Homo sapiens: one gene and its partners. The protein of the gene in region 3 interacts with the protein of the main gene of each other region in a biochemical or structural test. Each region holds a gene or a part of one and is shown on either strand. Other genes may lie near its edges.

Region 1 (4,043 bases), on a different chromosome or scaffold from region 3:
GTTCCTGCTCCTTCCACACCCACAGAGGCCAGAGGAATGTTCTCAGGCTCCCATACCCATATCCTGCCCCCGGCCTTCACTCTTGTTGGAAAAGTCCTTCTACTTTTATTTCCTCTCAAAGGTCACTGTCTCAGAAACTGCCTGGAATGTCTTCAGCAAGAAACCAGGATCATGCATTCACCCATTCAACAAGCAGCAGAGACCATCCACTCATCCACAGCAGACACAATCATTCAGCCATTTAACAAACAGTCCAGGTATGGGCCATCCCCAGGGAATTTGCTCCTCTGCCCATAAGAACTTTCCAAAGTCCCCTGGGGGAAGCCACTGGGACCAGCTAAGGCCTCTGCTACTGGTGGCTTCCAGCCTCCTCTGCCAGAGCCCCCAGGCTCCCTTTAGAGATGCCACATGCTTTTCAGAAATATCTCCTGGGTGCTGAGTGCTGGTTGATGATAATAGCAGCATTAAAAGGCGCATTTTCGAGGTCATTAAAGCTGACTGTAATCAGCTTCTTTGTTACAAACACCTCATTTCACACCCAAGTGCTCAGCTGGAAGGCAGGAGCGAGGTGCACATTCCGGGCCCCACTGGAGTCTGATAGGAAGGCAAGGGTGTGCGTGAGGACCCCGGGAAGGCTCGCTCTGCAGGAGCTCAGGGAGCAGAAGCTGGCAAATGTGGCCTCCCTGAGGCTGGTGGGTGTGGCTTACCTCCTTGCAGTTCTCCGAGTTTGAGAAGTGGATGAGGTCGTCGTTGTACATCTCCTGGGTGTTGATGATGTCGCTGTATTCCTTCTGGCTCAAGTCTTCGGGGTTGATGCCATTGGCTCGCAGGAACTCCTGGTAGGCCACGCTGAAGGCCTGGCCGATAGACTGGGCGATGAGCTGGGCCTGTGCAGAGGGCAGGCCAGCTGGAGACAGGCACGTGGCACAGGCTCCCCGCAGCCTCCTCAGCAGGGGGCTGCGGCAGGGCTGGGTGCAGGATGCACCCATAAGCCTTCAAGGGAGCCCTTGCTCGGGCTTAGAAGAACAAGAAAGAAACTGGGGGCCCTCCCTCATCTGATGAAGGCTGTCTCCCACCAGCACTCCACCGTGAGCGAACCCCAGTGTTGCCCTGAACCCCAAAGGGTCTACTCCTGACTGTCCCTGCCTAAGCTGTGGCACGGCCCAGATGCTCCAGGTCAAAGCTGTTTCAAAGAAAGTCTGGGACAACAATGAATTATTTACTACATGTCATATTTTTGTTGCTTTTTTTTTCTTTCGAGATGAGGTCTGGCTCTGTTGCCCAGACTGGAGTGGGAATGTAGGTGAGCACAACCACATCCAGCTAATTAAAAAAAGTTTTCTTGTAGAGATAGGGGTCTTGCCATATTGCCCAGGCTGGTCTCAAACTCCTGGACATAAGTGATCCTCCTGCCTTGGCCTCCCAAACTGTTGGCATTGCAGGTGTGAGCCACTGCACCTGACCCCATCTGTATTTCCTTTCCACTCATCTGATGCCGAAAATGGACTTTCAGTGTGTTTTCCGGGAGCATCGTGCTGCTAGTTGTCTACCCCGCATGTATTTATCGGTAGCAACAGAACCCAGTGCCCACTGGAGGCAGAGGGTGTGCCTGGCTGCTCTTCTAGGGATGTGTGGCTGTGCCAGGCCAGGCCTGCAAGACATGAGACCTGGGACTCCACACAGGCCCCATGAAGCACGTCACTTCTTTCTACTTCCGCTGAGCTGCTTCAGTGGACATCACCGACTCTGACATGGCAAAGGCCTGGACACTGAAACAGCACTCAGGGCCTGGCCGGCCGCCTGCTGGTGCGCAGACAGGAGACAGTGGGAGGTGAGGGCTGTACTGAGCTCCCGGAGCTCGCCAAGCAGGCTGGCAGCTGTGCAGCCCTGGGAGCGCGGCGGGGCTCTTGGCGGCCTTGGTGACGCCTCAGCCCACAGCGGGGCCTCCCGCCAGGCTCTGGGCTGTGTGAGCCCTCCTTATGCGCTGTCCTGCTCCTCACGTGCCTCCCCAACTGCCCTCAAGGGGGTCCTGCACGGGCGCCCCCAGCAAACTCCTACTCAACAGGATCCCAAAACAGGTGAAAACAAGGGCTTTGGCCTCAATTCCCTTCCCACTCTCCACGTGGCAGGATGTAAGAGCAGCAGATGAATGTATGCATTGGGAAAGACAAGCTGGGCCGGATTAGAAGCGCGCAGCAGGCGGCCTGCCCTCCAGCAGGCGTGGAACTGCCCTCCCTGACGGGCCCTAAGCCGTTTCCAGGACTTGCCGGTTCCCACGCCCAGCATCTCTGCCGCGCGCACAGACCCAGCTGGAGGCGCGACGCCCGGGGACCGCCAGATGGCGCCGCCGGGCTGGCCTGCGGAGTTGGCGAGCTGATGGGGCTCGGCAGGAGGGCCGGGGGCAGCGCCCGCGCAGGAGAGGGTCGGGCCTTTGGGAAGAGCGGAGGGCGGCCCCCAGGCCTCTGCTTCTGTCTCCGCCTGACGAGGCCACCTGGCTGGGAAGGACGGCCTGAGAGCCCTGGAGCCCCGGAGGCCCGGCTCCACCACCCACGGCCCTCGGACTCCACTTGGGCTCCCTCGGGCCACCGCCATTCTTCCTCCCCTTGGACGACATCCTCCGCCCCCGCGGAAGCTCCAAGCCCGGGGAGCCGGCTCCGCGGGGCTGCGCCTCCTTCCGGTGTCATCTGGGCCGCTGGTGTGCCGCCAGCCGCCGCCTCCCCGTCACTCCACGCCGGGTACCGGCTGCCTCCTGGGAGGTGTGGGGTTCAGGGGGCTCTCTCTGCGGCTGGCGCTTCAGAGAAGGGGTCGCCCTGCCGGCCCCAACTCGCAGCCAAGCCTGTGGGCGTTCACTGCTGTGAGTCCAGGAGCCCAGCCCAGGCCCCACCTCAGGGCTCAAGCGGCCTCCTGCAAGTGGGCTGTGGGCAGAGCCTGCAGGCGCTGGAGAGGTGGGGAAGAGGAGGCTGCTGTTGCTGGCAGGACCACCCTGCGGCCTCATCTACCCAATACGGCATACCCTGGCTTTAACCCTCCGCATCGGCTGCACCTGGGGGCTCTCAGTGCCCCTTGGAAACTCTCACCAGCTGACTGCCACCCTTCGCCACCGGGCCTGCTCCTGGCCTCATTCCGCCAGTACCTGTGGCCCATCCCCAAGCCAGGTCTCTCACACATCCTCGGCCCTCAGTCACACAGAAATACCCATCCAGGTTTCGAAGGGTCTCCGTGTAGCGGTGGAAGGAATGTGTGAGTGCGCTGTTGAAATGCTCTCTCCCTCCTGTAAATCTGCCATTGCGCCGAAGCACTTCAAGTGGACCCAAGTTCTTAGGAAGAAGATGACTGCGCCAGCCAAAGGTTTGAACCCTGTCTTCAGTTTCCATGCTGTATGTCAGGATCATGACAATATGGGGACCCTTCCCTATTGCCCAGGTCCCTGAGACAGCCTCAAGTCCTTATGTGAAAAAGAACGCCCTGGCCAACTGCCCCTGAAGGATAGATTTTTTTTTTTTTTTGAGACGGAGTTTCACTCTTGTCACCCAGGCTGGAGTGCAATGGCACGATCTCAGCTCACTGCAATCTCCGCCTCCCAGGTTCAAGCAATTCTCCTGCCTCAGCCTCCCACGTAGCTGGGATTACAGGCACGCACCACCAAGCTTGGCTAATTTTTTTGTATCTTTAGTAGAGACTAGGGTTTCGCAATGTTGGCCAGGCTGGTTTTGAACTCCTGACCTCAGGTGATCCACGCACCTCAGCCTCCCAAAAGTGTTGGGATTACAGGCATGAACTACCGTGCCCAGCCATAGATCATATTTTAAAATTTCACTCTGGCAACAGCCACAAAACTGGCTCACCAGCAGCGCCCCCTGCTGGTCTGTGAGTAAGATCAGCCTCCAGGAAGGACAGTTCCTCTCTGAGCTCCCCTCTTGGCCCTGCTGCTCCTTCCTCAGCCCCTCTGTCCCCCTCCAGGCTAAAAACAACACTCTTCTCCAGCCAAGGAGGGAGCCAAAGGGCTTGTGATCTTTTCCTGAGTCTTTGGTATCTTATACTTC
Region 2 (3,797 bases), on a different chromosome or scaffold from region 3:
GCAGCAAGTGCTGGGGCCAAGGCAGGGGCCAGGGCTCACCTTCCATCTGCGTCACTGTCTCGTAGCTCAGAACCGAGTCTTCTCGACCTGGTGGGAGGTGGGGCATCTGCAAGGGGCTCTGAAACAGGGGACCTGGAGCCCTGTCTCCCCCTTGAGGATATCAAAAGCAACTCAGTGCTCCTCTCACCCACATCTTCCCGAACTAACCCTACCTACCCTGCGATCCAGAGCTGGAGCCCCAGTCCTAAGAAGAAAAAGCAGGCCACGGGGTTAGTTATGAGCTCAGCTCCATGAGCCCTCACACTTCCACCCAGGCTCACACCCTCCTCCACCTACCTTGGCCTTTAACCTTGACCACTCTCGTCGCTCAACCCTGTGGGATACATGGAGGGATACGCGGGTAGGGGAATGCCTACCCCCTGCCACCCCCATGCTCTGAGCCAGCTGACAACCCCTTCTCCATACTCTGGGCCAGCTGACACCCCTTCTCCTGCAGCCCTGGACACTGTGCTCCTCAATAAGGAGTTGTCCTTCCCAAAGGCTCATGGGAGCCACGGACCCCAGGAGGGCCCAACAGACAAACCCCTAGGAGTTCAGAGGGCAAACCCATCCCCTGTTGGCTGCCCACCCCGGGGGACCTTGGGAACTTCAGTGCCTGTGGCAGGAAGGCTACAGAGCCCAGGAGCCTCACCGCCGTTTGCTGGGGATGAACCCAATGTCGTCGGTCTCACTGTCAGAGTGGACCCGCCGTGCCTGCCACCACTCCTCATCACTAGCATCGATGACATGCAGCACATCCCCAAAGCGGAAGCTCAGGGCCTGGCTCAGGAAGCCGCAGTCCTTGGTCTTGTCGTAATCAAACAGGGCCCTGGAGGGCAAGTGGCTATCGGTCAGAGCCCAGCTGAGGACTCCAGGAAGGATGCCCCAGTCACCCAAAGACCCGGCCCAGAGGTCTGCAGATGGCACTCCCATGGGAGCTATGGATGCCGAGGAACCCAAAACTGTGTGGGGACCAAACGCTGACTATAACTCATAACAACTATTAGCCATCACTCAGTCCACACTGAGCACAGTTTCCAGAGGCAGGGCTTGAACTTGACCCTCTCAAGAAAGCAGTTTGGGCCAGGCGTGGTGGCTCCCACCTGGAATCCCAGCTGACTTTGGGAGGCCAAGGCGGGCGGATCACAAGGTCAGGAGATTGAGACCATGGTGAAACCCCGTCTCTACTAAAAATACAAAATATTAGCCGGGCACGGTGGCGGGTGCCTGTATTCCCAGCTTCTCGGGAGGCTGAGGCAGGAAAATGGCATGAACCCAGGAGGCGGAGCTTGCAGTGAGCAGAGATCACGCCACTGCACTCCAGCCTGGGCAACGGAGCGAGACACCGTCTCAAAAAAAAAAAAAAAGAAAAAGAAAAAGAAAAACAGAAAGCAGTGTGCAGTACACACGCACATCATAAAGTCACAGGGGTAACCCTGAATCTGCCCAAATTCATAAGAAAAAGAAAATGTCCCGTGTTTCCAAATAATGGTTACCCTTACCAGTATCAAATTTCTATCAGTAAGTCACAACCCCTGGGGTCAGAACCAGGGAAGTAATGAAGACACAGAAGAAAGCAATGGGCCTGGAGAGGAGGGAGGAGACCCCGGGCCCCCTGGAAGTGTGACAACCAGATGACATTCCGCCTGGGAGCCACTACACAACCTCTGTGGTCACTGGGAGTCAGAACAACCTTGGGGACCAACCGGACCCGAGCAGGGAGGAAGGGCAGAGCAAGGGCTCAGGTGGGAGCCAGTGTCTGGGTGGCTGGTGATGCCATCCAACAAGAGGGAAACTGCTGGCACAGCAAGATGGAACCCAGGCCCACAGCAGGATGATGAGCTCAGCGTGGGACATGTTGAGTGTGGGACGCCTGTGGGACATCCCAGTGGAGATGGCCAGAAAGCCAATGGCCAGAAGTGCAGGTCTTGACCTCTGGAAATAGGTCAGCCAGGGCCAGCACCTCCGAGAGACATCTGCAGAGCGCAGCGGCAGACGAGGCCATGCAAGCCACAGGGCCAGACAGGGACAGAAGTGGAGGGGTGACCCCCGGGGGCGGGAGAGAGGTGTGTTTTGGCAGAAACCTAAGCCACAAAAAGAGTCAATGGAGACGAGCCCTAAGAGGGGAGCAAAATGCCGCTGGAGAGACGGGGGCAGGCACCACAGAGCTGCGGCCCACGTCTCCGGGACTGCCCACAGGGACGTGAAGGCTGGGGCAACACTCCAAATACCCTAGAGGACCCTGCTTCACCAAGCATTAACCTTCGAGACGCCAAATTGTGGGGTGGCCTGGGAGTCCCGGGGAAGTGCTGGGATGACCAGGGGCTAGAAGGCAATTGGGATACTTGGGGCAGAGGCTATTTTCCCATCGACAGGGAGTATTTCAAATGTTAACCTGTGCAGCCAAGCCCATGAACCCTGGCTGCGCCTCAGGCCTGGGGTGGGGAGCTAGAGCAGGCAGGGTGGAGAAGAGGAGCGGCTGAGGCCCGGGCCAGGCACAGAGTGCCCAGGAACGCAGAGGGGCTGAGGAGTCCAGCCCGGGAAGCCTCTGACCTGATGTAGAAACCCCTTTTGGGGTTGCTCCGCAGGGACGCAGTCCCTGAGCCCAGGCTGCTGTTCATGAGCTGTTCCCGAAGGTCGTGGATCTTGGCCTCGAATCGGCTGTACTCTGAGGAAGGACAGGGAGGTTTCTGAGCTCTGTCCCCATCCTACTGTCACCCCTGTCCTCCCCTACTGAAGCCATCAGCTGAGGAAGAGTTCTAAGGGCCATTTCAGCTCACAAGACAAGGAACTTCCGGCCTGGTACCTTCTGGTTTATACTGAGCGATGATCGTGACCGTCTGACCCGCATTCTTCAGGGCAATGGCAGCCTGCTCATGGCTGGCATTTCGGAGGTCCACACCGTTGACCTAGAGAGAGGACGACAGGCTGTGTCACCAGAGACAGGAGGCAGCACTTCTGGGTCCAGGTGGAGCAGGGAGTGGTCCCGCAAGAGGACTCGGCTGCAGCCCATCCAGGCCCCTCCCCAAGAGCTCTGCGCTCTGCCCTGTGGGGAGGGGGTGGTGCAGGTAGGGGCAGGCCTTCCCTCACCGACAGGATCTGGTCCCCCTTCCGCAGCTCCCCACTGAGGTCTGCAGGGCCCCCGGCCAGGATAAAGGAGATGAAGATGCCTTCACCGTCCTCGCCACCCACGATGTTGAAGCCCAGGCCCGTGGAGCCCCGGTGGATCACAATTCGCCTCGGTTCTCGGGGAATGTCTTCCTCCCCGAGCAGGTCCTTGGCCACTGGAGAGTAGCGCCGAGGGGAAGTGGGGGTCATGGCTGTGGGGTAGTCGGTGCCCAGGTAGCTGCTGTGACTGATCTCATTGTCCAGGTGCTGGGAATAAGCTGAGGAAGACAGGGCAGAGATGAAAGTGCCTGGAGGGAAACAGCACCCGCCACCCAACCTTCTCCCCAGGGTGCCAGAAGAGCCAAAGTTAGGTGGAAGGGAAGATATTCTGCCAGAGATGCCAGGGTGGGGTGGTAAGGGGATATCAGATCACAGTGACATCAGGGGTCAGGAATTTATAGGTGACATCAGAGGCTGGTTGTCCTAGGGGATAAAGGATTTGAACGTTATATGTCCTCAGTATGCCAGGGATGGGGAAGTCAAAGGGAGCATTAATATTACGCTTTGGGGGTTTTCTCTGGGTTCCTGTGTCACTCGAATCTCTTAATCCATAAAATTCTTCTCCCTCTTTTTTCCCCCCACCTCTCTGC
Region 3 (4,043 bases):
AACCCGGGAGGCAGAGCTTGCTGTGAGCCGAGATCACGCCACTGCACTCCAGCCTGGGCAACACAGCAACATTCCGGCACCCCCCCCCAAAAAAAAAGAAGCAACCCTTCATTTCTTCAGGTTTTACCATAAGATGCAGCAATTCAGTTACCTCTTCATATTCCACTTCTAATTCCAGTTCTCTTGTTATTCCCACCACATCTGCAGCTATTTCCTCCACTGAAGTCTTGAACACCTCAAAATCATCCATGAGAATGGGAATTAACTTCCTCCAAACTCCTGTTAATGTTGATAGTTTGACCTCCTCCCATGAATCAAGAATGTTCTTAATGGCATCTAGGATGGTGCATCCTTTCCAGAAAGTTCTCAATTTACTTTGCTCAGATCCAAGAGAGGAATAATTATTTCTGGCAGCTACAGCCTTTTGAAGTGTATTTCTTAAAGAATAAGACTTGAAAGTTGAAATTACTCCTTGATCCACGGGCTGCAGAAGGGATGCTGTGTTTCCAGACATGAAAGCAACATTGATCTCCTCGTACATCTTCATCAGAGCTCTTGGGTAAACAGGTGAATTGGTCAATGAGCAGTAGTATTTTGAAAGGAATGTTTTTCTCAGTAGCAGGCTTCAACAATGGGTTTAAAATATTCAGCAAACCATGCTACTAACAGATGTACTATCAACTACGGGGTTCAGGTTCATTGTTCCATTGTTAGAGCTTAGGCAGAGAAAATTTGGCCTAATTCTTAAGGGCCCTAGGATTTTCAGAATGGTCAACAAGCATTAGTTTCAATGTGAAGTCACCAGCTGCATCAACCCCTCACAAGAGAATGAGCTTGTCCTTTGAAGCCAGACATTGATTCCTCCTCTCTAGCTATGGCAGTCCTAGATGGCATCTTCTTCCAGTATAAGCCTGTTTCATCTACATGGAAAATTTGTGGTTTATTGTAGCCACCTTCATCAATCATCTTAGCTAGATCTTCTGGATAACCTACTTCAGCATCTACATCAGCACTTGCTGCTTCACCTTGCACTTTTATGTTATGAAGACAACTTCTTTCCTTACCTCATGAACTGACCTCTGCTAGTTTCCAGCTTTTCTTCCGCAACTTTCTCACCTCTTTCAACGTTCACAGAATTGGACAGTTAGGGCCTTGCTCTAGATTAGGCTTTGGCTTACGGCGATGTTGTGGCTGGTATGATCTTCTAACAAGACCACTCAAACTTTCTCCATATCAATAGGCTGTTTTATCATTTGTGTTCACTGGAGTAGCATTCTTAATTTCCCTTAAGAATTTTTCCTTTGCATTAGCAACTTGGCTAATTGTTTGGTGCAAAAGGACTAGCTTTTGGCCTATCTGGGCTTTTGACATGACTTGTTCACTAAGCTTAATCATTTTTAGCTTCTGATTTAAGAGGAGAGATTTACTACTCTTCCTTTTGCTTAAACACCTGGAGGCCACTGTAGGGGTAATAATTTGGGGGTATTAATCAGGGCCCTGATTTCAATATTGTTGTGCCTCAGGGAATACCATTTGAGATGGTAAAAGCATCAATGTAAAACTAATTTTAAAGATCTATTTTCACTTCTTAATTTTCTAGACTTGATTTGTTTGAATTAGTATTCATGAATCTCTTGTAAAAGTAATTTGAAGGAGGATTACAAAACTGCTCCCTTCTTTGGTATAACAATAATACTGTTTTTTTTTTTGAGACGGAGTCTCACTTTGTCACCCAGGCTGGAGTGGTGGTGTGATCTTCACCACTCACTGCAACCTCCGCCTCCCGGATTCAAGCAATTCTTCTGCCTCAGCCTCCCAGATTCAAGCAATTCTTCTGCCTCAGCCTCCCAAGTAGCTGAGATTACAGGTGTGTGCCCATAAAACTGGCTAAAGTTTTTTGTATTTTTAGTAGAGACACGGTTTCACTATGTTGGTCAGGCTGGTCTTGAACTCCTGACATCAAATGATCCACCTGTATCAGCCTCCCAAAGTGCTAGGAATACAAGTATGAGCCACCACGTCCAGCCAATAGTAATAATCTTAGATAAGATATAGTACTTGCCTAGGAATTAAGAACCAACATGGAATTACTTATGAAAGAACAATAGTTAAAGCAGTTAATGTATTACATATTTCACAGTTTTGTATGTTTTATTTTACTAACTGGACAGGGGGAAAAACTCCCTGTGATAAGATGTTTTTCTTTGAGGAAACAGAGTGCATTCACTTTCTTTTAGCTTCGTGAATGAATGCTCAGGTTCCTATCATTCATACAATTGAGTGAGCGACCTTAGGTAGTTGTGTATATCCAAAATGTCTATCACTGGTGAGATTTCATATTGAAGGTTTCACAAAGAATGATCAGGTATTCCACAAACAGTAGAAGAAATTCTGATTCACATCCTTCTGATAGATTCTCCAACTAAGTTATAACCAGATCCTCCAACTAAGTTATAACCAGATCAACGAAGCACAACCTCCCTTGGTATCTGCGGGGGATTGATTCCAAGACCCCACCTCAGATACCAAAATCCACGAATGCTCAAGGCCTTTATATGAAATGGTGTAGTATAAGCTTGTTCAACCTGTGGTCTGCAGCCCATATGTGGCCCAGGACAGTTTTGAATGTGGCCTAACACAAACTCACAAATTTTTAAAAAACATTATGAGATTTTTTGCAATTTTTTTTTTTTAGCTCATTAGCTATCATTAGTATTAGAGTATTTCATGTGTGGCCCAAGATATTTCTTGTTCCAATGTGGTCCAGAGAAGCCAAAAGATTGGACGCCCCTGGGAAGTATTTACATATAACGTACACACATCCTCCTATGTACTTAAACCATCTCTAGATTACTAATACCTAATACAATGTAAATAGCTGTTATACTATAATGTTTAGGGAATGATGACATTTTAAAAGTATGCACCTGGAAAAAGTTCTGCTTCCAAATCTATTGTACACCCATGTGCATGGGCAAACTATGGATAAAAATTCTCTGACATTCTCTTTCTCTGGAGATTGAGCACTATTTTCTTTCCTGCCCATGTCTATGATGACTATACCTAAGAAGTATAAGCACTAGCTAAGGATTCCACATACTATTTCCACCACTACCACTTGACTGCTTACCATCTCTACCACATTATAACAATAGTAACACATGTTAGGCACGTCCCAGGTGCCAGACACTAGGAACTTTTCATGAACCATTTCAATTAATCCTCACAGTAACCCTATAAAGCAGGCTTTAACACTCTATTATATAAATAAGGAAAGGAGGATTTGAGAGGTTAAGCAACGGGTCTAAAGTCACACTCCCACTGAGCAACAGAATCGGAATTTGAGGCCAGGTCTTCCCAACTCCAGGTCTTTACTACTCTTTTTTTTTTTTTTTTTTGAGACAGAGTCTCGCTGTTGCCCAAGCTAGAGTGCACTCGTGTGATCTTGGCTCACTGCAACCTCTGTCTCCTGGGTTCAAGCAATTTTCCTGCCTCAGCCTCCCAAGTAGCTGGGGCTACACGTGTGCGCCACCACAACTGGCTAATTTTAGTAGAGACGGGGTTTCGCCATGTTGGCTAGGCTGGTCTCAAACTCCTCACCTCAAGTAATCTGCCCGCCTCTGCCTCCCAAAGTGCTGGGATTACAGGCATGAGCCAACACACCCAGCCTTTACTACTCTTATTATAACAGTTTTGCTTGCTATGCAGAGTAACTGTATTGAATTTGAAATCTGCAAAATGAAGTAAGAGATTCATGTCTTTAGAAGAAAACAAATAATGTCCTGCTTTTTATCTCATTTTTTTCCCCTTGAGTTCTGTCAAGCTATTGAGAAGCAATATATATGAAAATTAACACATGACACAAGTCCTTTTGCCAGGCAAACGCCCTAATTTACCTGTTAATATGATGCCTATAAACATCCAGACACAGAGAAAAATGTTCCCTGCCTTAGGACCATAGTCTGATGTGAGCTTTCCTTGAGCCAATGTGAACAAAATTCCAAATATCTAAAATACAATAAGAAAAATCATTCGTTATTAAG
Region 4 (4,043 bases), on a different chromosome or scaffold from region 3:
CCGAGGCGGGCGGATCACGAGGTCAGGAGATCGAGACCATCCTGGCTAACATGGTGAAACCCTGTCTCTACTAAAAATACAAAAAATTAGCCGGGCGTGGTGGTGGGCGCCTGTAGTCCCAGCTACTCGGGAGGCTGAGGCAGGAGAACAGCGTGAACCCAGGAGGCGGAGCTTGCAGTGAGCCGAGATCGCGCCAGTGCACTCCAGCCTGGGCAACAAGAGTGACACTCTGTCTCACAGAGCGAGACTCCGCCTTAAAAAAAAAAAAAAGTTTTACTGGGACACAGTCATGCCATTTGTTTATGTGTTGTCTATGGCTATTCTGGTGTAATAGCAGAGTAGTTGTGACAGAGGCCTTATGGCCTGTGAAGTCTAAAATGTTTACTATGTAACTTTTATAGAAAACATTTGCTGACCTCTGGTGTAGAGATCCTAGTTTAGAAATCTTTATAAATGTGGTAATAATTTATCTTAAATTTTTCATATTAAAGTAGACCAGATTTCACAATATTTATCAGTTAGAATAAACTTTCTCAAAGATTTCCACGTTGCTTGATTCTAAATAGAAATTTAGAGTTGATTTTTTTTTTTAATTAACCTTTGCTAGGTGATTATTCTTACTCCCCAAATTACACTTTCAGAGGACAGAGATCAAGGGCTAGTCCTACTCTCCCAACCTGTCTACAATGTGCACAGCACTCGAGGCACTTTCCAAAACACAACCTTTTTGATTAACCTATAGCCAGAATTTCAAAAATTATCTCCCCTATATAAGTAGCAGATGCACTTTGAGTTCTGACTGGAAAGATACATAATGATAAAAAGTTACTTGAATTTAGTAACACTTTAAAAATGAACACCCATACATCTTTCAACATAGTGCTTATTTACATATTCAGAATAGAGAATATGTGCTTGGCCCACATATTCTTTTATGGATAACTCTGCAATTACCCCATGGGAGGTCCAAGGTCAAGGTGGGGAGCACTCCTTGCAGTGGCCACTTGGCTTGGGTTTTGTGTTATGAACACAGACAATGATGCTTACCCAGGGCCATGTTGACTATGATCTCCTATCCCTGAAGCGTGCTCTGTCTTTTCCAATGCCCCAGTGGATTCAGGGACTGCCAGGGCCTGAGAGGAACACCGTTCATCCTGTAGAGCTGCAGACATGGAGTCAACAGAACAATTGCTCACGATGCTGGACCGTGAAGAAATCTCACTATGGCTGGAGTCAGACAAGTTGTCAGATTTAGCTGATGGAATAAGTGTGTAACCTGAACAAGAAAAGAGCACTGATCAAACTACAAAAAAAGGGAACATATGGTGGGGGTAGTAGGGGAAAGGATGAAAAAAAAAAACCCCACAAAAATAACAGAAGACAAAGTAGAAGCAATTTTAGTTTCCATCTATGTAGATATAATGGTGCCAATTTTCTCCACACATTCCCCTACATAACCATTTGCCTACTATCCACACCACACCAATACAACTACACATTCAAGAAAAAGACAGTCAAAGTCCAGTGTTACTCAGAAAACTAGTTTAAAGGTATATCTTTCTCAGGCTCTCCCACAGCTATAATCATTTAATAAAATAAGAAGATTACAAATATTAATAAGTACATGTCTTTAGGGTTTCTCAACTTCTTTTTAACCCAACGCTCCTTCCTTTGATTAATATGAATATTTCTTGACCTGATCTGAATCCCAAATACCATCTTGAAGTAAGGGTAGGGGTGGGAGTCCAGGACTCAAGGGAAAGAACTACATTTTTGCTTTATCAAACTATATATACTTACCCCATATATTCTGCATATCCCACCTAAGAAGTCTTGTCTTGAGTTGAGAGTCACTGTTTTAGATTATTTTTATTTTTTAGACACAGGGTCCTGCTCTGTTGCCAGGCTATAGTGCAATGGCACGATCATAGCTCACTGCAGCTTCGAACTCCTGGGCTCAAGTGGTCCTCTTGCCTCAGCCCCAAGTAGCTGGGACTACGGTCTGCACCACCACACCCAGTTATTTTTAAACTTTTTGCAGAAATGAGGTCTCATTATGTTGCCGAGGCTGGTCTTCAACTCCTGGCCTCAAGCGATCCTCCCGCCTCAGCCTACCAAATTGCTGGGATTACAGGTATGAGCCACCATGCCCAGCCTGTTTCAGTTTTTTAAATTGTTTTAGGTTTAAACTTAGTGTCATACTTAGTTTCCTTTTTCTTCACCAACCTTGCAGAATATTAAACAGCTGAGTGGATACATGTTTAATAATGTGTTATAGAAAAAAACAGCATCTACATGTTCTATGTTGTTCTGTGACTTACTGCACAGCAGACAACTAGAGAGATGTTCTTCTGTATTCTAGGGACGCACTGAGGTGAAGGACCCAAAAACAAATCTGCAACAGAATGGCTAATGTACATAATAATCTATTTTGATAACTGGAAGAAACCAAATTTTTGTTTAGAAATAAAAGAAAAAGAAAATGCCCTAGTAATCCCAACAAGGGACGGGTCTCAAAGAAGTAAAAAATATCTTCTTGCTCACAGAGGAAAGTAGGGTTTAGTAGATATGTGACCTTTGGACCAATACCTAGAAATGTCATTAGGAAGAATTACAGGCTTTGGGTATGTTACTGGAATTCTCAGGGCCTCATCTTCATGCAGAAAGAGGATGACAACATCCTTAGTTCCAAGTCTTTCTCTGTTTATGGATCTTGGAGTTATTCACATATAACTCAAGTCATTTAAGGAATAATTTGTTGCACAGTAATCTTATTAAGTCGTTTCGTTAACTATTTCAAAGAGAAAAAGGCCTAGAAAATGTGTGATTTATATTTGGCCTACGTGGACAGGAACAGGGTAAGCCAAGACAAGCCAGTCTTCTGACGTCTATCATACATCTCTGAACTTGGGATCACTGCTATTTGTCAATGTCCATGAGCTGATTAGTCAATTTTTAAGAGGACCAAGAAAGTGGATGTAATAAGTAAATTAAAAATAAATAAAAACCTTCTTCTTGAAAAGAAAAAGTCATTGCTCTACACAATAATCTTGCTTCATTGTTTAAAAAATAATTTCATTCTTATGTCTATTTGATCAGTATTTCTCAAATATAATAATACTAAGAACCACCTGGCAAGCCAATTAAAATAAACATTCCAGATCCCATTTCTGGCAATTCAAGTTTATGAAGTCTGGGGTGGGACACAGTAATTGCATTTTTTAACAAGTTTCCCAGATGATTCTGATATTGCTATGTTAGACTAGTCCCTTCTCCCCCAATCAAAGATACGTAAAAAGTAGAAGATAAAAAAGCCTCCTCTACATATTTCACTCACAGATCCAGCTAACAGTAGGAAATAAAGTCAACTACAGAAAACAAGAGTATAAAATTTACTAACTCAATACATCAGTAAAATAACTTATGTACAAATGAGGCATTTTCAAGTGTTTATAAATAGTATTTTACTAAGTTGTCTGCCTAAGCTTTGACAAATGGTTTAATTTAAGCCATGTATACATTAATAACTGAAAACAAACTTAACACTAAAATTAAATAAGGAACTTCATCAGAGTGTCTTCCTCCTTTTAGACTTGAATCGCGTATAGAAGCAGTTTAAAGTGTTACTGTTGCCTTGGCTATTTGAATTGAAGATGGCACTCCCTTTCTCATCTTTGATGTTGCTTCCAACATCCTTCACTTTCTCACAGCTTTCTGTAGCTTGATTGTGATCTGTGTCCTCTTTTTGGCTGTTGACTAGTCTCTCCCTTGAAAGCATTCTTTCCCTAAGTCTTCTAAACGGGGATGTCATTCTTTTTCTGGTTGTGTTCTCACAACTTGTCCTGTCTCTATTCTCCTCAGTGGCCTTCTCAGTACTGTCTGTTCTTTTGGCTGTGCTCCTGGTAATCTGAAGGATTTTCTTTTGCAAGTAAGCCCCACCTATTCCGGGGCAGCTCTGGCCACTGATCTTGCTGCTGTGATCAGATATGATACTGCCAACTGGAGGGAGAGATGCAAAAACCCTGACATGGTCAATCACAATT
Region 5 (4,043 bases), about 150 Mb from region 3:
ATCACGAGGTCAGGAGATCGAGACCATCCTGGCTAACACGGTGAAAACCCGTCTCTACTAAAAATACAAAAAATTAGCTGGGCGTGGTGGCAGGCGCCTGTAGTCCCAGGTACTCGGGATGCTGAGGCAGGAGAATGGCATGAACCCAGGAGGTGGAGCTTGCAGTGAGCCGAGATCGCACCAGTGCACTCTAGCCTGGGTGACAGAGCAAGACTCTGTCTCAAAAAAAAAAAAAAAAAAAAAAAAAAGAAACTTATAGCACATTCATAAGATGGAGTACTATGAAATCGATAAAAATCATACTATATGCTCTCAAAAAATACTTATTTAGTATGTGCCACATGATACCATTTTTGTTTTATAAAACTTTACATGTACAGGTTAAAAGACTAAGATTGAAAAAATAAATAAATAAAAATAAAACTTACACATAGCACAGAATATAGTGGATGAGATTTGCCAAAAAATTCATAGAGGTCATCTCTGTGCTCTACTGTACTTTTCTAAGTCTATTTATTGATGTTATTTAGACCATATTTTTATCTCAGTAACTTGAAAGAGCACACTCACAATCCAATAAACTGTATTGGGGAAAATGTACATTTAGTGCAAATCCAACACAAACCAGAAAAATACATACAGCAAAATGACTGACTTACCCTGTTTATCTCAACAGTCCTTGGTTCCATATCTGTGCCTATAAAGAAGCAACACAATTAACTTTTTAATATTAAAAAATAATATATTTAGCATATAATATTGCCCCATGAAAAATGGTTTCATTTTCTAGGTCTTTCAAGAGAAGACACTAAAGCAAGCAGGTATTGTACCCTTCCTCAGCATCCAAGCTGGTAGCCAAGTCACCAGGGGCCATGTCCTCTTTTTTTTTTTTTTGACACAGAGTCTCGCTTTGTCACCCAGGCTGGAGTGCAGTGGCACCATCTCAGCTCACTGCAACCTCTGCCTCCCAGATTCAAGCAATTCTTCTGCCTCTGCCTCCAAATAGCTGGGATTACAGGTGCCTGCCACCACGCCCGGCTAATTTTTGTATTTTTAGTAGAGACGGGGTTTCACCATGTTGGCCAGGCTGGTCTCAAACTCTCGACCTCAAGTGATCCACCTGCCTCGGCCTCCCAAAGTGTTGGGATTACAGGCGTGAGCCACCGTGCCCGGCCTGCTGTGTCCTCTATTTTAAAGAAGTGCTCTCTGTTTGAGATCAATGTGGCCATAACCATTTGGTCTGACAAAAGTGGATGGGCTATATAGCAGCAGCTGCCTGGAACATGGTGAGTAAATGCTTGGAGGATGACTCATTTTTGTGTGTGTGTGTGGTTTTTTTTTTTTTTTTTTTTTTAGATGGAGTCTCACTCTGTCGCCCAGGCTGGAGTGCAGTGGTCCGATCTTAGCTCACTGCCATCTCTGCCTCTTGGGTTCAAGCGATTCTCCTGCCTCAGCCTCCCAAGTAGCTGGGATTATAGGCATGTGCCACCATGCCCGGCTAATTTTTGTATTTTTAGTACAGGCGAGGTTTCTCCATGTTGGCCAGGCTGCTCTCAAACTCCTGACCTCAGGTGATCCGCCTGCCTTGGCCTCCCAAAGTGCTAAGATTACAGGCATGAGCCACCGGGCCCGGCTGAGTCATTTGTGTTTCATTGTACATTTTTTTCTACCTTAATCAAAGATAACCCTCCATTCAACAAAAGACTTAAAAGGACCCCTTGTCCCACCCTGCCCCCAAGGATATACACACTTTTTTTTTTCTTTTAACTGGCCCAATTTTCCCATAGAAGGTATACACACTTCTGACCTTTCTCCAGTGACCTGTAATTTATTAATTTTCTCTTTGTAAGTAATTTTATTTTACCATGCACTCCAGCTTTCTGCTTTTCTGTTTTTCAGGTGCTTTGTGTTGTGCCACTGAAGGAATTTCTTTTTTTTTTTCTGGAGACGGAGTCTTGCTCTGTCACCCAGGCTGGAGTGCAGTGGCACGATCTTGGCTCACTGCAACCTCCACCACCCCCGCCAGTTTCAAGCAATTCTCCTGCCTCAGCCTCCTGAGTAGCTGGGACTACAGGCGTATGCCACCACGCCCGGCTAATTTTTTTTTGTATTTTAATAGAGACGGGGTTTCACGGGGTTAGCCAGGATGGTCTCGATCTCCTGACCTCAGGTGATCCGCCCGCCACAGCCGTCCCAAAGTGCTGGGATTACAGGTGTGAGCCACCATGCCTGGCCACCACTGAAGGAATCTCTATGGCTTTCCTACCTTCAGAACATGCCTTTCAGAAAGCTCAGCTTATGTGGCCAAGCTCAAAAAATTAAAAAACATTTATATTAAAGAAGACTGGTTTTTAAAAAACACATTTTTTTTTTTTAATTTGGGTAACAGGATAGTTTTGCTCTGGGTGTGTCCGTGTAATACCTGAATTTTTCTGGGAAGGATCTGAAACTCTTTTTGTGCCAACCAGGTTTTGCAGGCCAGTGATGACAGGAGCGAAGGAGGGATGACAGCTGCTGTGTGCACTCTGCTGACTACCCTGAAAGAAAGACCCAGGGGTCACCTGTGTGCAGACACTGACTTGACCCCCTAAATGCATACTTATCCATTAGTGTGCCAATTACTGATGTCACCATAACCATCTAACAGAAAATCGTGAGGAGGCCAGGAAAGAAAACAAAAATCACCCACACTATTCTCTTACTACCTCAACCCAATCCCATTTAGACATTTCCTCCATTGCTTTCTCCATTATGTGTGCTTTTGTATATGGTTTCAATCACCAAGGTGGAGACCATAGAATCATTTCAGCTGTTCTTGCTCCACATAAAATCAAAACCATTTTCCTAGGTTGCCACATAGTGTTTATGTATATATAGTCAGCTAATGGGCACTATGTTTCATTTGGGGTTACAGTCAACTTTATTACCCAAAATGTATTATGTATTTTGCTAAAACAAGTATAATAAGACCTTGATTAGCAGAAACCTGCCAAAATAGAACCCTCAATTGTGGGGAAAAAAGCACCAAATCTGAAGGGAAAAAGACTTGTTTTAGGGATATATAACATTTTTTTCTCAAAGATTTTCCTAGAATCAGTAATAATTTAGTCCAATCTGCTAGATCTCCATTACCTGTCCCTTTATTCATTTAAATGAATATGTGAGGTTAATACTGTGTAGTCTTTTAAGGCTAGTGGCTGTTCAACAAAAACTGTATACATAGTGAAGGGCCTTTCTTATGTAGACGAAAACATTGCAAATAATGAATATTTTTTTCTACCAAATTATTCTGCATCAAAATTTTAAGCTAAGCCTAAGATCACTGTTATCAGTTCATAAATTATAATTTGGTCCATTTTCTTAACTCTATGATGAAAGTTGTTTAATATTTTAATTCCTAAAATATGAAAACCTTCAAATATATAGAAAAGCTGAAAGAATTATACAATAGACATCCATATAAATAGCACCTAGATTTCACAATGAGTATTTTGCTATATTTCCTTTATCACATAGCCATTTATCTATTCATCACTCATCTTTTTTTAAAAAATTCATTTCAAAGTAAGTTGTAGATCTCAGTATACTTCATAGTGGCTATATACATTTAAAGGAGTGTTTTTATACTTTTCCTTAAAGGATATGATTTAAGTAAATGGTACTATAATAGATAACTAATCAGAACTGAGGAAGTACAGTATATTATAACTTTTGCCTTTAAAAAATTTCAGAAAGGTGTGTTTGCCAAGACCTTTATTGCATTGTATTGTAATTTTTGAGGAGTCTCCCTCTGTCACCCAGGCTGTAGTGCAGTGGTGCAATTTCAGCTCACTGCAACCTCCGCCTCCCAGGTTCAAGTGATTCTGTTGCCTCAGCCTCCTGAGTAGCTGGGGTTACAGGAGCCCACCACTATGCCCAGCTAATTTTTGTATTTTTAGTAGAGACAGGGTTTCACCAGGCTCTTTGGCCAGGCTGGTCTTGAATTCCTGCCCTCAAGTGATCTGCCCGCCTCGAACTCCCAGTGCTGGGATTACAGATGTGAG
Region 6 (4,043 bases), on a different chromosome or scaffold from region 3:
TAAAGGTGAATTACAGAAAATAAATGGATACTTCTAACATACCTAAATTTACAGACCAAGTCCAGCTCACGGATTACCTGATCCTGTCCCTTCTTTTAGTAGCCAAATCTTCTGACTACTGTTCTAGGTTTTTTCCACCATGTCACTGCTATCGATGATGATGATAACACAGGATGTGATTATATAGTTCAAGGCCAAAAAACAAGAAAAATAAATAATGATCTGAAACAGCCTCTTGCCATTTCCCACATTGTCTGGTAAACTTCTATTCATCTTCTGTATCTCATCTTAAATATTACATCTTCCCTAGTGGGATTGAGTGTTCCTTGTCTGTTTTCTTGACAAAGAGCGTTAACCTCACCACACAGCATTGAAATTGCCTGTTTTTGCATCTGTCTTCCTAATATATTTTAAGATTCATACAGGCAGAGATTGAATATCATTTGCTACTTCAAACATGCATCTGGCACTATGCCTGGCACATAGCAGGCACTCATAATACACCTTTGTTGAATGGATAAATGATTGAATAAATAAATGAAAGTAGAGTCATTGCCTTAAATATATACACCAGTTTACACCATATATACACCAGTTTACCTTTTAAAAGAATTTTAGCTTGTTTATTACCTATGAGAGATGTTTAAATAGAACAGAACTTAATAGGTTTATTCCAAGTATTACCATGCTTTTAATGATAAAGATGTCACAGTCCTTCAAAATGATAAGCCCCTGATAGAAGCTTCAAAATTGTATCCTAAATTAGGGCCTCAGTGGCTAGCAAAATGGTGTTACCAGAAGAAATGGGTTACAAAAATCTTACCCATAATCTTTGAAAGTTTAAATTTAATAATTCATTTTCACAGGATTTTCTACTTTATTATACTATACCATTCCTCTTGATCTTAAATCCTAAAATAAAGGAGGTCAGGAGAATCGTTTCATAATGAAGGTGATTTGGCCATAATTCTTGAAATAGCTTTGAAAACTTACTAAAAATTGAACCCATGCGGAAAGCTTATTAGTTGGAATTCAGAATGACTAACTGGACAGAAGAGACTGGATAAAACTCATGATCCTTTGCTGACAAAGCAACCTACATTGAGGATATAGAAATACTTGTGTCTTGACTGCCATAAATTCCTGGGCAAGAATTGTAGCTGGAGAACACATTCCCTTATCCCAATCAAAAAAAAAATCTCTCCCTTATACTAAAAAATATTTTGTAATCACTGACATGGTAACATAGTATTAAGAAATAAGCATATAAGGAGAATATATATTTAAGAAAGTATAGTATTCGTATAGTTCAGTAAATGTATTTTACAGAACAGTGAGAAATTTACTTATTGACAAAGGCATGAATGAACAGAATGCCTTAATCCAACATTTTAAAAACCCAATGTTTATCCCAGGCAAATTAACACAGAAACAGAAAACAAAATACCGCATGTTCTTACAAGTGGGAACTAAGAATTGGGTATACATGGACATAAAGACAGGAACAATAGACACTACGCAAGGGACTAGTGGGGCAAGGGCTAAAAAACCACCTATTGAGTACTATGCTCAATACCTAGGTGACAGAATCATTCATATCCAAAACCTCAGCATCACACAATATACTCATGTAACAAATCAGCACATGTACTCACTGAATCTAAGAAAAAGTTGAAGTTTTTTAAAAATAAATAAGTAAAATCCAATGTTTTGTGCATACCTCACTGACTAGATTCTTCTACCCACAAAAGTAAACAATAATAGGCCTAAGGGAGAAATCAAATATTCTATCATAAATAAAAACACTTGAGCAGATTTCCAAAAACCCAGAAGTTCACACATTTTCTAGTATCAAGTCATTAGCATATGCTTTGTACTCTCCCAATAGATATGTAAAATAAAATCAATTAACAGATCATTTTATCTCTACGTCTTCCTCACTAAGTTGCTTCATAGCAAACTCCTAATCAGTAGTTAAACACAAAAAGTATTCTTCTATTTCTCATTCTGGAATTCATTCTATTTATGCCTCCTGGATTAATTAATATTTTACAATATCAAGAGTCTATAGCTTATCCAAGGTCAAAATTGTCCCTACGGGGAATTTCTTTTAAAATAAAAAAGATATGGGATACCCAGGCTGGAGTTCAGTGGCACAATCACAGCTCACTGCAGTCTCAAACTCCTGGGCTCAGGCAATCCTCCAGTCTCAGCCTCCCAAGTAACTGGGACTATAGGCACATGCCAACAAGCCCAGCTAATTTTTTTAATTGGGGAATTTTAAATTAAAAAAAAAAACTTTAGTAAATTGTCTATTTTACTTTGACTTACAGAAAATGCAAAAGTTTGAAAACTGTGTTTTCCCATCTTTCTCTAGGATGATTCAGTGCTTAATTCTTTTGAGTTTTATGGCTGTGAAGAGATTAAAAAAAAAACTTGAAGTTTTGGAAAACAGAAAAAACATGTGCAGCCATATGCAGTGGCTCATGCCTGTAATCCCAGCACTTTCAGAGGTGGAGGCAGATGAATCACCTGAGGTCAGGAGTTTGAGGTCAGCCTGCCCAACATGGTGAAATCCCCTCTCTTCCAAAAATGAAAAAATTAGCCAGGCACAGTGGCAGGCGCCTGTAATCCCAGCTACTCGGCAGGCTGAGCCAGGAGAATCGCCTGAACCCAGGAGGTGGAGGTTGCAGTGAACCGAGATTGCGCAACTGCACTCCAGCCTGGGCAACAGAGCAAAACTCCGTCTCAAAAAAAAAAAGACAAGCTCTCCATATATTACTGGTATGGCAAACATGAAAATTCAAATACAAATTTGGTAAAATGCTTGCAAAAGGAATAAAATAACCACACAAGGCCACTCAATGAAGTCAGGTACAGGCATAGCTCATTTTATTGCACTTTGCTTTACTGCACTTTGCAGACAACACGTTTTTCACAAATTAAGTTTGTGACAACCCTGTGTCAAACAAGTCTATCACTGGCAATTTTCCACAGGATATATTCACTTCATGTCTCTGCGTCACATTTTGGTAATTCTCACAATATTTCAAACTTTTTCATTAGTCTTTTATTTGTTACAGTGATCTGTAATCAGTGATCTTTGATGTTCATTGTAATTGTTTTGGGGCGCCACAAATCATACCCACATAAGACAGCAAACTTAATCTGTAAATGTTGTGTGTTATCTGACTCCTCTACCAACTGGTCATTGCCCCATCTCTCTCCCTCTCCTCAGGTCCCCCTATTCCTGGAGACACAACAATATTAAAGTTAGGCCAATTAATAACTCTACCATGGCCTCTCAGTGTTCAAGTGAAAGGAAACGTTACACATTTCTCACACTCAAAGCTAGAAAATGATTAAGCTTAGTGAGGAAGTTATGTTGAAAGCTGAGATAAGCCAAAAGCTAGGCAGCCCTCTTGCACCAAATAGCCAAGTTGTGAATGCAAAGGAAAAACTCTTGAAGGAAATTAAAAGGGCCACTTCAGTGAACACACGAATAATAAGAGAGACACGCTTACTGTTGATATAGGGAAAGTTTTAGTGATCTGAACAGAAGATCAAACCAGCTGTAATTCCCCTCAAACCAAAGTCTAATCCAGAGCAAGGCCCTAACTCTCTTCAATTCTATATAGGCTGAGAGAGGTGAGGAAGCCACAGAAGAAAGCTGGAAGCCAGCAAAGGTTGGTTCATGAGGTGAAAGGAAAGAAGTCATCTTTACAACATAAAAGTGCAAGGTGAAGCAGCAAGTGCTGATGAAGAAGCTACAGCAAGTTATCAAGAAGATCTAGCTGAGATAATTGATGAAAATGGCTAAACAACAGATTTTCAATTCAGACAAAATAGCCTTACATCAGAAGAAAATGCTAGAGAGAAATCAATGCCTCATTTCAAAGTTTCAAAGGACAGGCTGACGCTTCTTAGAGGCTAATGGGTGAATGTAGCTGGTGACTTTACGTTGAAGCCAATGCTCATTTACCCTTCCAAAAATCCTAGGGTCTTTAAGAATTATGCTAAATCTATTCTGTCCATGCTCTAAA
Region 7 (4,043 bases), on a different chromosome or scaffold from region 3:
TTCTCCTGCCTCAGCCTCCCAAGTAGCTGGGACTACAGGTGCATGCCACCGTGCCTGGCTTATTTTTGTAATTTTTGTATAGATGGGGTTTCACCATATCGGTCAGGCTGGTCTCGAACTCCTGACCTCGTGACCCGCCTGCCTCAGCCTACCAAAGCGCTGGGATTACAGGCATGAGCCACTGTGCCCGGCCCAGATAATTTCAGAAAGTGTTCAAAGTTAAGAAAACTTTGACTCTTCTTTGAGTTCAGAGTGACCAGAGCCATGAGAAAACTTATCCATTAGGGAGAAGCATATGTGTTCATGTGTGTGTGCATCTCTGTCTATCTGTCTCTTTTTTAAGGGGCAGGTGGCCCATTCCTGACCATTGCTTTACCTCTGGGGATGGTTTTCAGTGGCAGCTCCAAGTCCTGCCATCTCACTCTCTCTCTCACTCCTCTGCAATCCCTGCCTAGGTATTCCCTCAGAGCTCCTCGTGGAGTGGCCAGAACATTTTTGAAAATATCAAAGACTCTGATAAGATGCTGAGTTTTCGAGCCCATGGCCCGGAGGTCCAGGCTCATAACAAACGGAACTTGATACAGCACAATAACTCCACGCAGACAGACATCTTCTACACGGACAGGCTGGAAGACAGGAAGGAGCCAGGCCCCCCAGGAGGCAGCAGCTCCTTTCTGCATAAGCCATTCCCTGGGGGACCCTTGCAGGTCTGCCCCCAGGCCTGTCCCAGTGCCTCTGAGCGTAGCCTGAGCTCCTTCCGCTCAGATGCCTCTGGGGACCGTGGCTTTGGGCTGGTGGACGTGCGTGGCCGGCGGCCACTGCTGCCCTTTGAGACCGAGGTGGGCCCCTGTGGGGTTGGGGAGGCCTCCCTGGACAAGGCAGACTCTGAAGGCTCCAACAGCGGCGGGACCTGGCCCAAGGCCATGCTCAGCTCCACGGCAGTGCCTGAGAAGCTCTCTGTTTATAAAAAGCCAAAGCAAAGAAAGTCCATCTTTGACCCTAACACTTTCAAACGCCCCCAGACACCCCCCAAAATAGACTACCTGCTTCCAGGTCCTGGGCCTGCTCACTCTCCCCAGCCCTCCAAGAGGGCGGGGCCTCTGACACCCCCAAAACCTCCCAGAAGGAGCGACTCCATTAAGTTCCAGCACAGGCTGGAGACTAGCTCCGAGTCAGAAGCCACTCTGGTGGGCAGCTCCCCATCCACTAGTCCCCCGAGCGCCCTGCCCCCTGACGTGGACCCCGGGGAGCCCATGCACGCATCACCCCCTCGCAAGGCCAGGGTCCGCATTGCTTCCAGCTACTACCCTGAAGGAGATGGGGACTCCTCCCACCTGCCGGCCAAGAAATCCTGTGATGAGGACCTCACCTCCCAGAAGGTGGATGAGCTGGGGCAGAAGCGTCGCCGGCCAAAATCTGCTCCCAGTTTTCGGCCGAAGCTTGCTCCAGTAGTGATTCCTGCTCAGTTCCTGGAGGTATAGCTGAGCCCCAGGGTGTGGGGAGGGGAGGCCTAGAGAGGGGCAGTTGGCCGAAGGAGGGCTGCTAAGTGGCCCTGCACCAGTGTCCCAGGCCCCTGTTTAGCCTGGTGCCTTTGCCTTTGCTGTTGGACTCAAGTGGGAAGTGGCCCAGCTAGGAGGTAGGTAAGTGGCGTGGAAGTGCATGGTAGTGGGAGTGTGACACAAGAGGGGAACACTTTATTGGGCATAGCATTTGGTTTGCTTTTTTAATAAGAAGCTTTTGAACTTACACAATAAAACCTAGGGCATAGACTTGCCTTGAAGGGCTAGGGAGATGAGGTGGCACGTGTGAGGCTGAGTGGGCAGCGGGACGGCCTGATTGCGTGTGCTGTCATAGTTTCCAGAAGGGTGAGATTGCTGGGGACTGTGGAAAGCATCTCAGGCACCAGTCCACACTGCTCACTGGGGACAAAGAGCTTCGCACAGCCCTCCACATCGGGCAGAGTTGTACGTGCCTGATGCACTTGTGCATTCTCACCTTTTACGTGATCTCTGTGAAAGATTCATTCTCTGTGGTTTTCTTCTGAAGTAAAGCTGCTTCCTTGAAGATGTGTAAGGCAACATGAATGGGCAGCGTTCCCATTCATGTCCCTTCCTGTGCCCCAGTGGGAGGAGCTGGTTCCTGGGGGGCAGAAACTGGCTTGCAGAGCTGCTCAAGCGTTCCACTGTTTGGTTTTTTTTTTTTTTTTCCCCTAAGATGGAGTCTCACTCTGTCACCCAGGCTGGAGTACAGTGGTGCAGTCTTGGCTCACTGCAACTTCTGCCTCCCGAGTTCAAGCGATTCTCCTGCCTCAGCCTCCCAAGTAGCTGGGATTACAGGCACCCACTACCATGCCCAGCTAATTTTTGTATTTTTGGTAGAGACGGGATTTCGCCATGTTGGCCAGGGTGGTCTTGAACTCCTGACCTTAGGTGATCTGCCCGCCTCGGCCTCCCAGAGTGCTGGGATTATAGGTGTGAGCCACTGCGCCTGGCCACACTCCACTCTTTCTAGCAGACACTCTTGCCCTTGCATCTGCAGGAACAGAAGTGTGTCCCGGCCAGTGGAGAACTCTCCCCGGAGCTCCAGGAGTGGGCACCTTACTCGCCTGGGCATTCCAGCCGGCACAGCAACCCCCCGCTATACCCTAGCAGGCCGTCTGTGGGTGAGTCAGCCAGCCAGGGGCTGGGGCTGAGGGTCGGTGTAAACTCGGGATGCCTAGTCTCCAGGGAGAGGGGAGGCAGCATTTCAGAGAGCTGCCATGTGTTTTCAGCCCTGAGGTCCAGAGAACTGGGAAATGCTGTCCTGTCTGGGATGGTTTGTCTTATAGCCATGACATGTCTTAGCTTGTCAACATGCTTTCTCCCCATAGCAACCTGGGAAATAGGAAGCATGAAAGAGACTTCCCCCCTTTTTACAAATGGAGACAGGCCAGGAGCCACAGCCACATTGTGAATTGGTGGTTAAAACTCATCTCCCAAGTCCTTTTCCCAAAAGACTGCGGCTGCGTCCTGGGATACAGGGGAAAGGCTTGTGTAAGTCCTGGGCTGGCTGGGTCCTTTGGGGCGTCTTTTCTCACCAAGCCCATTTCTAGGCACTGTTCCCCGGAGTTTGACCCCCAGCACCACTGTGAGCTCCATCCTGCGGAACCCCATCTACACTGTGCGCAGTCACAGGGTCGGCCCCTGCAGCTCTCCACCTGCGGCCCGAGATGCTGGCCCCCAGGGTTTGCATCCCAGGTATGTGAAGGCACCCTACGCTTCTCTGTACTCCAGCTGCCCAAGCCTGCCTGGACATGGAACCATGAGTGCATAAAGAGGCTCATTGGTGGAGAAGCTTCCTTGCCTGCCTGGGAGGGGACTGGCTAGAGCAGCACAGGGAAAGGGAGCCTTAGGGCTGCTTTCTGAATTCATCAGCACAAGGTTTCAAAAGGTACTGGAAGGACACGATAGTGATAGCAGCTGATGTTTGAGTGCTTATGTCCCAGCCACTGTGCTCAGACCTTTATGAATATCATTTCACCGAATCAACAGCAACCTCATGGGCTAAGTCCTATTACTGTTTCTGTCTTGAAGATGAGGAAACTGGTACTTCATAAGAGGGTGGGCTGGCTCCAAGCCACTCTTATTCATTCATTTGACAGATATTTTTTGAGCACCTACTACATGCCTTGGTCTATCCTAATTATAAGAGGATACATTGCTGAACTAAACAAATTAGCTTCTAGCTCATGTCGTGTGGTTTTTCAAATGTGGGAGGCAGACAAAAAAAAAAAATGAACGAAGTGATATCAGATGGTGCCAAGAGGCTATGAAGGCAGTCAAACAGGGTGACAGGCTGGGCTGTAACTTGGAAGAGGGTGGCAAGTTAGAGTGGGTGGTCAGGAAGGGCCCTGTGGCAGAGGGGATGCTGCTGTGACCAGAAGGATGAAAGAGGCCAGCTGCACAAGACCTGGGCTGGAGCCTCCAGGGAGAAGGGCCATCGGTGCCAAGGCCAGGGCACCCAGGCACAGTCGTGGGAGCTTGTCAAAGGGGCAGCGAGTCAAG

What was found.
Region 1: the proteins of FLVCR1 (region 3) and APBA2 interact in a test that uses a peptide from one of them, tested with the Homo sapiens proteins (one large-scale study listed by IntAct).
Region 2: the proteins of FLVCR1 (region 3) and DLG4 interact in a test that uses a peptide from one of them, tested with the Homo sapiens proteins (one large-scale study listed by IntAct).
Region 4: the proteins of FLVCR1 (region 3) and RAPGEF6 interact in a test that uses a peptide from one of them, tested with the Homo sapiens proteins (one large-scale study listed by IntAct).
Region 5: the proteins of FLVCR1 (region 3) and PATJ interact in a test that uses a peptide from one of them, tested with the Homo sapiens proteins (one large-scale study listed by IntAct).
Region 6: the proteins of FLVCR1 (region 3) and DLG2 interact in a test that uses a peptide from one of them, tested with the Homo sapiens proteins (one large-scale study listed by IntAct).
Region 7: the proteins of FLVCR1 (region 3) and DLG5 interact in a test that uses a peptide from one of them, tested with the Homo sapiens proteins (one large-scale study listed by IntAct).

What each region holds. Positions count from the first base shown.
Region 1 is NC_000015.10:29,102,223-29,106,265, reverse strand, and holds part of APBA2 (amyloid-beta A4 precursor protein-binding family A member 2), read right to left. Parts: intron 888-4,043; coding exon 708-887; intron 1-707. UniProt on the Homo sapiens protein: Putative function in synaptic vesicle exocytosis by binding to STXBP1, an essential component of the synaptic vesicle exocytotic machinery. May modulate processing of the amyloid-beta precursor protein (APP) and hence formation of APP-beta.
Region 2 is NC_000017.11:7,193,628-7,197,424, forward strand, and holds part of DLG4 (disks large homolog 4), read right to left. Parts: intron 3,426-3,797; coding exon 3,130-3,425; intron 2,949-3,129; coding exon 2,846-2,948; intron 2,708-2,845; coding exon 2,593-2,707; intron 869-2,592; coding exon 692-868; intron 374-691; coding exon 337-373; intron 245-336; coding exon 217-244; intron 88-216; coding exon 40-87; intron 1-39. UniProt on the Homo sapiens protein: Postsynaptic scaffolding protein that plays a critical role in synaptogenesis and synaptic plasticity by providing a platform for the postsynaptic clustering of crucial synaptic proteins.
Region 3 is NC_000001.11:212,889,111-212,893,153, reverse strand, and holds part of FLVCR1 (choline/ethanolamine transporter FLVCR1), read right to left. Parts: intron 4,009-4,043; coding exon 3,897-4,008; intron 1-3,896.
Region 4 is NC_000005.10:131,432,383-131,436,425, forward strand, and holds part of RAPGEF6 (rap guanine nucleotide exchange factor 6), read right to left. Parts: intron 4,000-4,043; coding exon of another isoform or gene 3,569-3,999; exon of another isoform or gene 3,379-3,568; intron 1,277-3,378; coding exon 1,048-1,276; intron 1-1,047. UniProt on the Homo sapiens protein: Guanine nucleotide exchange factor (GEF) for Rap1A, Rap2A and M-Ras GTPases. Does not interact with cAMP.
Region 5 is NC_000001.11:62,119,675-62,123,717, reverse strand, and holds part of PATJ (inaD-like protein), read right to left. Parts: intron 2,538-4,043; coding exon 2,423-2,537; intron 698-2,422; coding exon 660-697; intron 1-659.
Region 6 is NC_000011.10:85,617,084-85,621,126, forward strand, and holds part of DLG2 (disks large homolog 2), read right to left. Parts: intron 1-4,043. UniProt on the Homo sapiens protein: Required for perception of chronic pain through NMDA receptor signaling. Regulates surface expression of NMDA receptors in dorsal horn neurons of the spinal cord.
Region 7 is NC_000010.11:77,818,514-77,822,556, reverse strand, and holds part of DLG5 (disks large homolog 5), read left to right. Parts: intron 1-455; coding exon 456-1,475; intron 1,476-2,538; coding exon 2,539-2,662; intron 2,663-2,869; coding exon of another isoform or gene 2,870-2,952; exon of another isoform or gene 2,953-3,091; coding exon 3,092-3,236; intron 3,237-4,043. UniProt on the Homo sapiens protein: Acts as a regulator of the Hippo signaling pathway.